3 linked regions of the Homo sapiens genome follow. The protein of the gene in region 3 purifies or fractionates together with the protein of the main gene of each other region. This does not show direct contact. Each region holds a gene or a part of one and is shown on either strand. Other genes may lie near its edges.

Evidence for each region.
Region 1: the proteins of RNF135 (region 3) and EPB41L5 purify together in Homo sapiens (affinity purification with mass spectrometry; 2 studies listed by BioGRID and IntAct, with this or other methods). This does not show direct contact.
Region 2: the proteins of RNF135 (region 3) and IQCB1 purify together in Homo sapiens (affinity purification with mass spectrometry; 2 studies listed by BioGRID and IntAct, with this or other methods). This does not show direct contact.

What each region holds. Positions count from the first base shown.
Region 1 is NC_000002.12:120,085,962-120,089,623, forward strand, and holds part of EPB41L5 (band 4.1-like protein 5), read left to right. Parts: intron 1-1,209; coding exon 1,210-1,279; intron 1,280-3,662. UniProt on the Homo sapiens protein: Plays a role in the formation and organization of tight junctions during the establishment of polarity in epithelial cells.
Region 2 is NC_000003.12:121,796,928-121,800,589, reverse strand, and holds part of IQCB1 (IQ calmodulin-binding motif-containing protein 1), read left to right. Parts: intron 1-1,215; coding exon 1,216-1,394; intron 1,395-3,362; coding exon 3,363-3,472; intron 3,473-3,662. UniProt on the Homo sapiens protein: Involved in ciliogenesis. The function in an early step in cilia formation depends on its association with CEP290/NPHP6.
Region 3 is NC_000017.11:30,997,666-31,000,514, forward strand, and holds the end of RNF135 (E3 ubiquitin-protein ligase RNF135), read left to right. Parts: intron 1-996; coding exon 997-1,526; 3' UTR 1,527-2,246; downstream 2,247-2,849.

The sequences.
Region 1 (3,662 bases), on a different chromosome or scaffold from region 3:
CAAGGCAGGGGCTCACCTGAGGTCAGGAGTTCAAGACCAGCCTGGCCAACATGGTGAAAACCTGTCTCTACTAAAAATACTAAGATTAGCCAGGCATAGCATGGTGGCACGCACCTGTAATCCCAGCTACTCTGGAGGCTGAGGCAGGAGAATTGCTTGAACCTGGGAGGTGGAGGTTGTAGTGAGCCAAGATCACGCCACTGCACTCCAGCCTTTGTGACAGAGTGAGATTCTGTTTCCTTTCTTTTTCCTGCTATTATTTCTTCATTATTGTTTTAGTAAAGCTCTTGTAAAGTTATGTTTTACATCTATTTTATATGTTATATTTAAAGATTAGTCAATCGGAGTGTCACATTGTTTCGACATTCACAATTTATGGAAATACAGAGTTCAAATGTGTGGTAGGTGGTTTGGAATTTACAAGTAGGGAGATACAGTTGGAAAGCGGGCCATAAAGCGAGGTTAAAAAAATTAAGAAGTATTTCCTCTACCCAAAATTCCTGTTGAAAACAGAGTTGAGGCTGGTTGCAGTGGCTCACGTCTGAATTCCAACACTTTGGGAGACCAGGGTATGCGGATCACTTGAGCCCAGGAATTTGAGACCAGCCTGGGCAACGTAGCGAGATGCCGTCTCTACAAAGAATACAAAAATTAGCCTGGTGTGGTGTGGGAGTAAGGCTGAGGCAGGAGGATTACTGGAGCCTGGAAGTTCACGGCTGCAGTGAGCTGTGAACACACTACTGCAGTCCACCCTGTGTAATGGAGGGAGAACCTATCTCAAACAAACAAAAAGAGTTGAAAACCATCGTCAGTGTTTTTCTTTATGGCTGTTTTTTTTAAGCTTTATGGTCGTTCCTATGTCTAGTTCCTATGCTGCTGCTCTGCTTTAACACTGGAACAATTTTCCCTAGACCTAAAGAATCTCTTACACCATAATCGAGACCTATCAAATACATAGATTTCATTTTCCTTAACATTTTTAATGTCTGATATGTGCAACCTCAATTTTGTCTGAGATTTGCTTTTGAAATATGTACTGTGTTTTTCTGTTTCCTGTCTTTTGATGGGCATTGCAAGTTACGTTTACCGTCCTGTCAATTTTTAGTTCAGGAGTTAGATGGTTAAATGTATTTGAAATAAAAACAATTTTTTTCATATTTAGAGAACATTTGTTTGTAATTTGGCTTTTATTCTCTTATTATATTATAGGCCGAAGATAACCAGATTGGATTTTAAGAAGAATAAATTAACCTTGGTGGTTGTAGAAGATGATGATCAGGTAGGAATAAAATTATATTCTATTACTTGTGTAACAGTGACTGTATTATGTGGTAACTTATTTCTCTAAAAGAGGGAATGTACCTCATTGTTTTAAAGAGCCACAGAATGCAAACAGTATAATTAATGCTTTAAATAATTTCCTTACTTGGGTCATACCATGCTAAAAATATGGTTTTCTGCCCTTAGGATGAAAAATAATATAAAAGTGTCTTCTTGTTTCCTCATTGATCGTATATCTGAGGTGTATAAAAAATTACATTTAAGTGAGCCAGCCAGTCACCCAGGCTGGAGGGCAGTGGCACTGTCATAGCTCACTGTAACCTTCACCTTCTGGGCTCAAGTGATCCTCCTGCTCACTCAGCCTCCTGAGTAGCTGGGACTGCAGGCACATGCCACCACCACGCCTGGCTGATTTTTTCATTTATTTGTAGAGATGGGATCTCAGTATGTTGCCAAGGTTGCTCTCAAACTCTTGGCCTTAAGTAATCCTCCCATCTTAGCTTCTCAGCATGTTGAGATTACAGGAGTAAACCATTGTGGCAGACCAACTTTATCTCTTTATTAACTGATCAAAAAGATCTACCTAATAATAATAAAGCCTTTTGAATTAAAGATTACCTTTGTATCAGTTACAGTGTGGTTCTTAATTGATACATGCTTGGATGCAACTCACATGCATTGTTCTTAATGCAAGAAGCCAGATTTAAAAAATTATGTATTGAATGACTCCATTTATCTGATACTTTAGAAAAGGCAAGAAGAATTTTACTTTATGCAAATTAATAAATTTTAACATATGCATACAGATACAGATAAAAGCAGTTTGAGCAAAATGTTAACAGTTGTTGAGTCTAGACACTATGTATATGGGTATTCAGTTTTTCTGTATGTTTAAACATTTTTATAACGATGAAAATTTTTTTTTTGAATCCAGTTCTTTCATTTTCCTCTGCTCAGTAATTTGACTGCTATACTTTTCCTGTTTTAAACACACAATGGGATACTATGCAGCCATAAAAAAGAATGAGATCTTTTTTGCGGGACCATGGATGGAGCTGGAGGATATTATCCTTAGCAAAGTAATGCAAGAAGAGAAAACCAAATACTACATGCTCTTACTTACAAGTGGGAGCTAAATGATAAGAACTTATGAACACAAAGAAGGCAACAGCGGACACTGGGATCTACTTGAGTGGGGAGGGTGGGAAGAGGGAGAAGAGTAGAAAAGATAACTAACTGAAAGATAACTGGACTTAATACCTGGGTGATGAAATAACATGTGCAATAAACCACCATGACACGTGTTTACCTATGTAACAAACCTTCTCTTGTACCCCAAACCCAAAATAAAAGTTAAAAAATAAAAAAGAGTGCTGCTCTGAACACTAAGGTGTATGTATATTTAGCTTTTGTAGGTACTGCCAAACCTCTTTCCAAAGTATTTAATACGAGTTTATACTCCCACCAGCAATGTTATTGGTGTTTTTTTTCTTTTTTGCTAATGTTTGGAATTCTGTCTTTTTCATTGTAGCCATTCTTGTGGAGTAGAATGTGGTTTTAGTTTGTGTTCCCCTAATGACAACTCTGGTTTAGTACTTATCTGTGTAGTTATTGGATATGTGGATATCTTCTTTATGAAATGCCTACTCAAATCTTTTGCTTATTTTTCTATTAGGTCATGTGCCTTTTAGTCATTGAAAAAATTCTTTGTATGTTCTGGATATTAATTCTCTGTCAGATATTAGTGTTGCAAGTATCGTCTACTCCTTGTTTTGCCCTTTTTCCACCACTTTTATTTTTAGATGACATATAATAATTGTACATATTTATTGCATACAGAGTGATATTTTGATACATGTATACAATGTGTAATTATCAAATCAGGGTAATTAGCGTATCCATCTTTACTGTCTTAATAGTGTCTTTAAATAACCTGAAAAGTACCAAAAATTATAAAATAGATAACCATCTTATTAATGATCTAGATTTAACATTTTTTACATTTTGCTTCAGTTCTCTTTTAGAGAAAGATAAATACAATTATGTGCATGAATAAATAATACCAACTAAAGTCTAACCCCCTGACTACCTACCCCCTTTCTTCTGGTACCTGGTCACCAATTTTGGAGGGTATTATTCTCATATATATTTTGTAACTTTTTCCAAATATTAACTCATGTTAGAATTGTTTTAAAAACTTGCATAATTATATATATTTGCAGCTTGCCTGTTTTATCTAAACGTGTACCTATGTAGATCTAACATATATATATGCTATTGTGTAATATGAATAAACAATAGCACATTCATTCATTCATCATTTATTCATTTATCCCTCTGCATAATTTTTTACATATGCCTCTATTTACTTGACCATTTCT
Region 2 (3,662 bases), on a different chromosome or scaffold from region 3:
TGACATTGACTGATGGGACAGGGTGAGCATCCTAGGCATAGGGAATAGCATGTAAGAGACACAGTGGCACAGAAGTAGATGTCACAAAGATTCTCACATATTTTGATTGGATAACTTTATAAAGTCTTTCAACTCAGAGATTTTTACATTTAAGGTATGTTGCTGATCTCTTTTCTCTTAACAAAATTATTTTAGTAACTACTAAAGTACAATTTTCAAAAAGCTCAAACATGAGTCTTATACAAATATAAAATTTGACTGCTCAAAATTTTATGCAACTCATTAATGAGGGAACAAATAAGATATTTATACAGGGTCAAAGGAGAATTTGAGGAAAATAGATTTATGGAGTTGGTTTGTCGAAGAAATGTAGAAGTAAATTTGCTGATAGATTTTTAAAATTTGCTAATAGGAAAATATGACTTATAAAGCAATGTAGCTTCTAGAATTACCTTTTCTACTGGACAGAAATCATTTGTATTGCTTTGAATAAGAGTCTGTTTACATTGCTCTTAGATAAGAATCTTTAGCATTGTTTTCTACCAGCCAACCTCTATTTTTACAGAATTGTAAAGTATTTTAATAGTGAGTAGAAAATTAAACAGAGGTACATACGCCTAGAAAATCACATAACTCCTTAAGGGGGTAAATAAAAGGATACTCACTAACCCTTTCCTTTTGACTATTTCTAAGTTTTAGATAATTTTTCACAACATCAGTAATACAAGATGGGTTGTTAGTATAATGAAGGAAATACCAAGGAAAGATTTTAAGTTTCTCCTATATTAAGCACATGATAGAATTCCTATGGCATTTTTGTCTTTGTACATCATTTAAAAATTAACTGTGTACCTGTCTTGATTTCACTTTTATCATTGCCTTGAAGCTTTTAAATTATTTATTGTTTAGTATTTTGCACATTTATATTTCATCCTTGATTTGATTGCAGGCTTCTCTAAGGAGAAGGCCTTTGGCTACTTTGTATTCTCTATTGTACCTAGCACACATGGCACCTTGCACACAGTAGGAATTCAATAAATATTAAGTGACTGAATATGATATCTTCTTGGAACCAACATATATTTGAAAAAGTGGTTATATTCTTGGATCAGGACACAGTCCGGCATCAAGTTACTGAATCTTATATTTTAGATTTGTTGTGATACCTGTACATCAATTAGTAATGGTACTTTTTTTTTTATTTTGTTCTATTAGTGGTGATTTACTCAGAATAGGAAGAAAAGCCCTGTATTCAATTTTAGATGAAGTTATTTTCAAGCTTTTTTCAACTCCTAGTCCAGTTATAAGAAGTACTGCTACAAAACTCCTACTGTTGATGGCTGAATCCCATCAGGAAATTTTGATTTTACTGAGACAAAGTACCTGCTACAAAGGTAGTACATTCATTCTTTCTTTTCTTGGGATTCTCAAAAAGAAAATTTTTATTGATGGTTTATGAAAAACAAAATTCTTATATTTTAAAGAGTTGATAACTGACCTATGTAGATAAAACTCACAACAGATACCAATTCAGAAAAAAAAAAGTCTTTATATAATCAAGCTATCTTCATGTCACTACAGATAGCATGTGGAAGATACTTTTCTGATCAGGTTGCCATAAATATTTACTCCCTCTCTGACAAAAAGGTTTTGTGTGTTGAATATACCATATAGTATAGTAAAATAATGACCAAAAAGATCAGTGACCTTATCAAGACCAGCTTTAGTGGAGAAAATGGAGCTGTGCTTGAGAGGCCAGTGGCCCTTATGGTATTTTGAACTATCAATAATTACTTAACACTGCCTTTCCTCAAAAACAAACAAAAAAAATTGCCTTACCTCCAAAATCAAATACATATGTGAATTAAAAGTCAGAAATTTTGAGGATAAAAGGAGTAAGCGTATATACATTCTCATATAATAGCTTTCATTTAATTGAGCATTTACTGTGTGTCAGGCACATTCCATATACTTTATATGCATTAAAATGTTTAATCTTTACAACAATCCTATGGGATAGATATTCTTATCCTTATTTTATAGATATAGAAACAGAGACATGGTAATTTGCCCAAGATCACAAAGGTAGTATATATATTGTTTAATTGCCAAGCAAAGTTATATGTTATCTTTGTTTTATTTCTTTGCTGACCAGAGCCATGTATGTATTATAATCTATTTTTCTTATTCAGCGTGGTCAGGAAATGGGATTCTAGTTCATTAAATATACTTATTAACATAGGGTTATACTGTATGGGAATTTTTAAAGGTTAGAATATAATATGATGCATTTAATACCTAAACAACTAGAAAGGTCTTTATCATTCTTGATGATTTTGAAGACATTGTAATAATGTACCTTGAATTAGTCATTACTGAGGGTATTGTAGGAATAGAGAAGGAAAGTACCAGTAATAGAGCTCTTTAGTTGATATTGTGCCAGATAGACATTTTTCAATTCTGTAATTCAATTCCTAAAGAAATGTGAATGTCCAACAGAGTCGTTATAAAGGAATTTTACCTGAATCCTTCTCCCTTTCTTTGACTTATATCTCAATAGCAGAACTTATTCAGATTCCTGAAGATATTTTACAATTATTAATACTGCTGAGAACTTGGGTGTTGAAGAGAGTATAAGGCATTAAAAGATCCATATAGTGGTTTCCCCAATTATACACTACAAGGCAATTTTACCTTATGTATTTATTTTGAATACACACATTATAATACATCATTTCAGTGTACCCTGGAAACAGTACTTACTTTGTACCTTTCACTACTACTATGTATTATTTTGGCATGAAAATGTACTATCCTAGTGTTGTAGCACTTCACCTATAATGTTTTCCCAGGAACCTATTGATTTGCCCCAAATTATATATGTTACCATATGTTTATATTTAATAATCTTTTTCAACTAATAATGACTAATAATAATCTGCATAAGTGCTTCCACAGGGCAAGCATTTACTGAATATGTGTCTGTAGTAATTTATCTTTAAAATGTCTCCATTTAAGTATTTTTGTTCAAATAAAAAAAATTTATCTCTACTTTTTGATTTACCACAGTGATTCCATCCCACTCCTTTTTTTTTTTTTTTATTAAAGAGATTGTCTAGACAGATTTTTTTTTTTTTATCAGATACCACAATTGAGCACGTAAGAATTCTCAGGAGGGAGGAATATCTTAAAGATTTCAACCTGGAATTCTCTGAGAAAAGGAAAAAGAAAAATCATATGATTAATCTTGTTTTCATTTGTTTTTAAGCCAGACTTTTTAGCTTCAAATTAATACTGATTAGATAACAAAATCATATTTTATTATTATAATAATAGTTGTACCTTTTGCTATTCCATTTCAGGACTCAGACGTCTACTAAGTAAACAGGAAACTGGGACTGAATTCAGTCAAGAACTTAGACAGCTTGTTGGCCTTTTAAGCCCAATGGTCTATCAGGAAGTAGAAGAGCAGGTATTAAGTTACAAAAAAAAAAAATTGCATGATATTTGCTGACTATATTAAACCTTAGTTTTCCTTAAATGTTCCTCACTTTCTTTCTCTTAAGATTTCAAGCAAAATACCCCCAAAACAGAAATATCTTTAAATTTTTTACTCAGGAGGTTGAGGCAGGAGGATTGCTTGAGTCCAGGAATTGGAGACT
Region 3 (2,849 bases):
TTTCTGCCATCTCAGTCTGGGATAGTCCTTAAGAGCATGGATCCCAGAGCCAGACTGCTTGGGTTTGACTCCCAGCAGCTCCACTAACTAGCTGTGTGATCTTGGGCAAGTCACTTAAGCTTCCTAGAGCCTGGGTTTCCTCATCTGTAAAATGGAGATAATATAGTACTTCTCTTGCGGGATTGCCATGAGGGTTAAGTGAGTGAGTATGAGTAAAACACCTAGAGTAGTCATGCTGTATAAGTGTTAGCAATTTATTCACTCAATAGGAAACCAAATGAAATATACAAAGTGAGTAAGACATGGTCCTCAATCAGGAAGTTTCAGTTTAACTGGGAAGGTATAAACAGCTGTGGTCATAAATCACCATAAGACGGGCGTGAGCCACCGCACCTTGCCTACGCCCAGCTAATTTTGGTATGTTTAATAGAGACAGGAGTTGGCCATGATGGCCAGGCTGGTCTTGACCTCCTGGCCTCAAGTGTTCCACCTGCCTCAGCCTCCCAAAGTGCTGGGATTACAGGGGTAAGCCAGTGCACCTGGCTGAAGGAGCTGGCCTGATTTTTAAAATTGACATATAATAATTGTATAGTCTGGGTGCAGTGGCTCATGCCTGTAATTGCAGCACTTTGGGAGGCTGAGATGGCAGGATTGCTGGAGCTCAGGAGTTCGACACCAGCCTAGGAAGCATGGCAAAATCCTGCTTCTTTTCTAAATAAATTTTAAAAATAAATAAATATAATAAGTGTACATATTTATGGGATACATAGTGATGTTTCAATACATATGGTGCATAGTGATCCGATCAAGGTAGTTAGCATATCTATCATCTGAAACATTTATCATTTCTTCCTGTTGGGTGATGTAGCAATTTTAATGCTAGTGTGAGTGAAACATCACACCAAAAGATACAAAGTTGCTATTTGAAGACTTCTTAGCATGGACCATCAAAAGATGACCGGCCATGTTCTTATTGTTCTTTTTTTTTTTCCAAAGGGGCCATCCATCCAACCTTTAACTTGAAGAGCCTTTCCTGCAGCCTGGAGGTGTCCAAGGATTCCCGTACAGTGACTGTGTCTCACCGCCCACAACCCTATCGCTGGAGCTGTGAGAGGTTTTCTACCAGCCAGGTCTTATGTTCCCAGGCCCTGTCTTCTGGAAAGCATTACTGGGAAGTGGACACTAGGAATTGCAGCCACTGGGCAGTTGGGGTGGCTTCCTGGGAGATGAGCCGCGACCAGGTCCTGGGAAGGACTATGGACTCTTGTTGTGTGGAATGGAAGGGGACTAGCCAGCTCTCTGCATGGCACATGGTCAAGGAAACTGTCCTTGGCTCAGACAGACCTGGGGTGGTGGGCATCTGGCTGAACCTTGAGGAGGGAAAGCTTGCCTTCTATTCAGTGGACAATCAGGAGAAGCTTCTGTATGAGTGTACCATCTCTGCCTCCTCTCCTTTGTACCCTGCCTTCTGGCTGTATGGCTTACATCCTGGAAATTACCTGATAATAAAGCAAGTAAAGGTGTAAGGTTTCCTAAGGGATTACAACACAGTGGTTTCCTGGTCTCTCTCCCTGTCATCAATCAGGGTAGTAACTTGACTTAAGAATACCACTTTTTAGAAAAATTACGATAGAGATGGGATCTCACTAGGTTGCCCAGGCTGGTGTCGAATTCCTGGTCTCAAGCAGTCCTCCCACCTCAGCCTCCCAAGGTGCTGGGATTACAGGTGTGAGCCACCACACCTGGCCAAGAATACCACTTTTGAAGTTAATCCTTTTGTGTGATACAGGATGAACTTGGGATGTTTGAACCCTGGACATTCCAAATAAAGAATAGGCCCCTGCCTGGCTCCTGGGAGATAACCTCTAAGCCATTAGAATATCTTGCCTGATAAGAGTGTTTTTGTTTACCTGTGGGCCTTGGGCCATGCAGTATCAGCTTGACCTTGCAAGGTCAAGCTGAGGAGACTAAGTTAGCCATGTGGGCAGTGAAGCATGCCAATGTGATCAATCCCTAGTAAAAGCCCTGGACACCTAGGCATGGGTGAGCTACTCTGGTTGGTAATACTCTGTGCACACATCATTGTAGCCACACATCATTGCTGGGAGAATTAAGCATTATCCTGAAGACTCTGCCAGGAGAGGATAATTGGAAGTTCTCTTGGACCTTACCTTATGTGCCTTTCTTCATTGCTGATTTTAATCTGTATCCTTTCACTGTAATAAACTGTAACTATGAGTGCAACACTTTGCTGAGTTCTGTGAGTCCTTCTAGTGAATCACTGAACCTGAGGGCAGTCTCAGAGGATCTCTAAACATAATTTGCTACTTATCAGTTGCTATGTAAGAATATTGCCACAAATTTAATGGTTTAAAATAACACATAGATATTATTTCACAGTTTCTGTGAGTCAGGAGTCAGAGCATAGCTTAGCTGAGTCTCCTACATCAGAGTTTTACAAGCTGCAATCAACATGTCAGCTGGGGACACAGGGTCATCTGAGGCTCCAATGGGGAAGGATCTGCCTCCAAATTACATGGTCATTGGCAGCCTTCAGTTCTTGAGTTGCCGGACTGAGGGCCTCAGTTTCTTTCTGGTTGTTGGCTGGAGACCGCCCTCAGTTCCTTACCCCATAGGCCTTTGCAACACAGCTGCTTGTTTCCTCAAAGACAATAAGGGAGAGGGTCTCCTAGCCAGATGACGCAAAATCTTTTTTTTTTTTTTGAGACGGAGTCTCACTCTTGATGCCCAGGCTGGAGTGCAGTGGTGTGATCTGGGCTCACTGCATCCGCCGCCTTCCAGTTTCAAGCAATTCTCCTGCCTCAGCCTCCCGAGTAGCTGGGATTACA